2 linked regions of the Homo sapiens genome follow. The protein of the gene in region 2 purifies or fractionates together with the protein of the main gene of each other region. This does not show direct contact. Each region holds a gene or a part of one and is shown on either strand. Other genes may lie near its edges.

Region 1 (2,305 bases), on a different chromosome or scaffold from region 2:
ATCTCCCACCAAGGTCAGTAAGCAAGTTTACAAAAGATTGGTCTTAATTTGAATACGAATTATGTAAACTCACACACATAATATTAATACTAGCAAATTAAAATTTGGCACTTTACATAAGAATACAATATATCACCCTGTTCCCAAGTATCATGATGTGACCTACGGGATAACCAGAAATATCACAAATTGTTTTTCCCAGAACTGCAGTTTAAAGAGATTTAGTAAAGAAAAAAAAAGATTTCACAATCAAATAAATATTAGAAATATTGCTTGATATAGTTTGGCTGCATGTCCCCCCCGAAGCTCATGTTGAAATGTGATCCCCAATGTTGGAGGTGGAGCCTGACAGAGGTGTTTGGGTCATGGGGGAGGATCCCTCATGAATGGCTTTGTGCCCTCTCCCATGGTAATGAGTGAGTTCTCACTCTATTCGTTCACGTGGGAGCTGGCTGTTTAAAAGCCTGGCATCTCTTGCTGTCTCTCACCGTGTGACATATCTGCTTCCCTTCACCTTCTGCCATGATTGTAAGCTTCCTGAGGCCTCACCAGAAGCATATGCTGGCCCTAACCTTCTTGTACAGACTGCAGAACCATGAGTCAAAATAAACCTCTTTTCTTTATAAATTACCCAGCCTGATAGTCCTTTATAGCAATGCAAAACTAATAAACTGCTGCATATCTTTTTTTCTTCTTGAAGCTTTAAAATTCATGTTAACATATTAAAGATTATGAAAGGCCTATACTAAAGATATCTGTATTTCCCAATCATTCTATAGTGAAACCTTTGATGGCCAGTAAAATTTGCATTCTTTGGAACCCATTTTGGGGACTGCTAGAACAGTCATGGACAAACCTTCAAAGATTCCAGAACTGAGTTTACCATTCATTATAAAAAGCCTACGGGGGAACATTTTTTTAAATGACCTTAAAACCGTCAAACAATCATTGTCAAAACCTTGCCTGCTCCTTCAGCTTCACTTCCTGAGGACCACCCCAAGCATGAAAGGTGACTGCAATCCTCTCACTCTGCTCTCTTGCAAGTCTGCATAGCATCAATGTGTCATTAGAGGCGATTACAACTTATTCAACTCCCATTCTTGGAAATGGGATCATAATAACGTGGTTATTTGAAAATTGCCATCTGTAGCAAAGAGTGCAAATATAATATATTCAACCCTAAATCCCTACTGAACATTTTCCCTGGTCACCAGATGGCTCCTTGGGACCTTACAAGTGCTTCTCAGTCATCATCATCGTTATCCTGTTGATGCATCAAAAATAATGCTTCGTAAACTTGTAGAGGAAAGATAACTAACACAGAGGAGGGTCTCCGTAAACCACTCCTGCCTGCCTGCTATGTTTTCCATCTACATCTTCCACCAGACTCCACACTGAGGTTTCTCAACCTCGGCACTATTACCATTTTGGTCACATAATTCTTTGTTCTGGGGGGCTGCCCTGTGCACTGTAGGATGTTTAGCAGCACCCTTGGCCTCTACCTTCTAAATGCCAGTAGCAACTCTCACCCCACAGTGTGTCAACTAAAAATGTTGCCAAACATTGTCAAATATCCCCTGGAAGGCAAAATCACCCCTCGTTGAGAACCACTGCTCTTGACTCAAATATATTTGCTAACTGTAGGCTCAAAAGGTAAAATAAATGATAATAAAATTATGGCTTTTAAGAAATAAGATCTGTTTTGACAAGTGATGGTTAACTACTAAAAACTGAATAAGCATCTCCGCATTTCAGTGAAAGACCCAGAGGGCAAATGTAAGAAAGTAGTCTGAAATTCCATACGGGCATTCAATTAAATTGTAGAACATGTGATCAAGAAATCAGAACATCTGAAGGCCATGAATAAAACCCAGACACTGTAAAAAAAATGTGATTTTAAATGTATTTAAAACACAGTGAAAGACACAGCTGTGGAGTGAATTTAATGCTAATAATTTCATGGAACACAGGAAAATACCATTTAATAAAAGTGCTATTTGTGGCAATAGGAAACAGAAAGGAACTCAGAATAAGCCACAAGAAATTTCAAGTATTAAGTCTAAATAGATTTTTTTTTTACTATTGCCAGTAAAGCCTGGGATTCCACTTCTGTGGAGCAAAAATATTTACCACAGCATGCCCACTGTGTCCACTAGTAATTTTAGAATCACTCTCTCAATAAGAACATGTTACACATGCAGTTACAAAGAATTATAGCCACTTTTTACATAGTTTTGGTAACTTTATATTTATCAAGATCTATATTTTGATGGTAAGACAGAATATTCAAATCGGTGATTAATAA
Region 2 (2,534 bases):
GGCTGCAGCCACTCCTTACCTGTGGACCCCTGCCCAGCTGTGACCCAGCAGAGAGGTGCCACAAACCTGGGCACACTGAGCCCTCCCCATGCCGCCCAGCCAAGTTTTGAGTGGATGATGTTTCCAGTCTTACTCAAGAATTCAGATGTCAGCCCAGCCCCATCCCAAGAGGCTCAGCCTCCTGCTGTGGGATCTGTATCCGGCTCAAGCCCTCCCTGCTGGAAGAGCTGCTTGGGCCCAGGGAGGGCTCTCCTGAGCCACCCACACTGGGGACTGTGCCTTTCATTCCCGCCAACGATACAGGTAGGGGAGGGGGTGAGGAGCCAGTGACAGCTGCGCTCGAGGCTAAATGCTAGGCCACCCTCGGCCTTAAATCTCTGTCCTCTCAACACAGTTATTGACAACACCACCAAGCATTGATGAGGATGCGGAGCAACCGGAACTTGCGCGGAGGTTGGTGGTGGGAAAGTAAAATGACACAAACACTCAGGAAGCAGGCCTGGGTGTTATTTCTTTTTTAATTGTCTATATAACAAAATCCACTGTTGTCACTGTTTTCCAGCATACAGTTCAGTGGCGTTAAGGGCATTCAGGACAGCTCTCATGACAGACTCACACCCACATGCACACCTGGTGCCCCAGCCTGCTTTGTCCACTGTCTCCATTTCCCCAGGGCTGCTTTTACTTTTTATTGTATTATTTTTGAGGCAGGGTCTCACCTGGTTGCCCAGGCTGGAGTGCAGTGGCATGATCATAGCTCACTGCAGCCTCAACCTCCCAGGCTCAAGTGATCCTCCCACCTCAGCCTCCTGAGTAGCTGAAACCATAGGCGCCATCACCATGCCCAGGGCTGCTTTTAAATAATGGCAAAGCCAGCAAGGCTCACTCGCGTGCCTGGGTCATGTTCTACAGCTGCTTGACCAGGAATCTTCCAATGCCGTATGAAACCTCACCAGGACCAAGAAAGAGAAGGGTTCCCTGCTCAGACCAGACACTTGCAGCATGGGGAAGGAGGAGCCCCTCCCAGCAGACCCAGTTCTCCTCTGTGCAGTCCGGCCTCATTTCCCACCCAAGCTCTGACCAAACCCCCTCCTGCTGCTCTGAGTGCCTGCTGTGCTCCTGGGGGCCCTCTCCACCCTTCTGTAGCTCCTGAAACCTTGTCCACTCTGCAAGGGCCGGGGCGTGCCAGTTCCTCCCAGAAGCACCCCAATGTTTCTGTCCTTTCCTGGAATCTCACAAGCACCCAGGTGCCTCTCTGCCTTGCCTGCCCCGCCCTCCTTGGCATCCTGGACTCGTGGCTTCTCTGCCCATTTCCTATGGCACCCAGCAGGAGGCTGGGCAGAAGATAGTGTCTGTGGGACACCTGCCCTTGCCCTGGTCACAGTGCCATCCAGGAGTCCCCATACTTGCAAAGTATGTTTGCACTGTGTGAAAAACTTAAAGCAGAAACATAAGAACAAAAGTGGACACTTCTCAAAAGAATAAAATGTTTGCATAAAAGGCAGAAAGACAGGGATGTCAACAGTGGTTCTCTAGGTCACGATGGCGGGAGCAGCATTCCTGCTGACAAGCACTCCTGCCCCGCGCAGCCACGCTGGGCTGCCGCCGCCTGTCAGCCTGTCTACAGGAGGCTGCAGAGCGGCCGTAAATGCCTTTGAAATAGCATCACAGTTATTTGTTAGGTCATCTCCTAGGGAGATGATACACAGTTTTCAATCCCAGTGAGTCTTTCTACCGCTTGTAAAATAAAATTAAATTACAATGATTCAACTGTTGAACAAGCTTATAGAGTCATAAAAGAACTATGATTTTCTATCTCACCCTTCCGTCTGGCAATCAAAGATCACACGTAGAACTTCTACACATGACCAAGGACCAGTACTGGGGCCTCCTTCCCACCTGAAACAAGGCAGGACTTCACTGCGAGGGGCTCTGAAAAGGAGATGCTGCAGGGTGCCACCCCTGAGTCCCACAGTTAGGGTCCTTTGTAGCCCAATGTCCCCAAGTCCCTCCAGCATGCCTGGGACTGAATGGTCCTGAGCGGCTGGGGTAATTTTCCTGAGGAGGTGGCACGTCATCTAACACACATGGGACAGAACCATGGCCCCCTGGTATGCTTCTTGGTGGTGGCAGTGGGGCAGGGACTCTATCTTAGCTCAAAGCCAGGGCTCTCATTACATGGGTGGGGAGCTGTGTGGCTCCAGAATCAATTACCTTCCCAGACCAGGCGCGGTGGCTCATACCTATAATCCCAACACTTTGGGAGGCCTAGGCAGGAGGATTGCTTGAAGCTAGACGTTTGAGACCAGCTTGGGCAACATAGCAAGACCCCATCTCTACCAAAAAAAAAATTTTTTTTTTTTGAGACAAAGTCTCGCTCTTGTTGCCCAGGCTGCCCAGGCTGGGGTATAATGGCGTGATCTTGGTTCACTGCAACCTCCGCCTTCCAGGTTCAAGCAATTCTCCTGCCTCAGCCTCCCAAGTAGCTGGGATTACAGGCACCCACCACCATGCCCAGCTAATTTTTGTATTTT

The links. Proteins that work in one complex are often made in the same cells at the same time.
Region 1: the proteins of CEP89 (region 2) and KCTD18 purify together in Homo sapiens (affinity purification with mass spectrometry; one large-scale study listed by BioGRID and IntAct). This does not show direct contact.

Annotation. Positions count from the first base shown.
Region 1 is NC_000002.12:200,490,764-200,493,068, forward strand, and holds part of KCTD18 (BTB/POZ domain-containing protein KCTD18), read right to left. Parts: intron 1-2,305.
Region 2 is NC_000019.10:32,875,425-32,877,958, forward strand, and holds the end of CEP89 (centrosomal protein of 89 kDa), read right to left. Parts: 3' UTR 501-2,534; downstream 1-500. UniProt on the Homo sapiens protein: Required for ciliogenesis. Also plays a role in mitochondrial metabolism where it may modulate complex IV activity.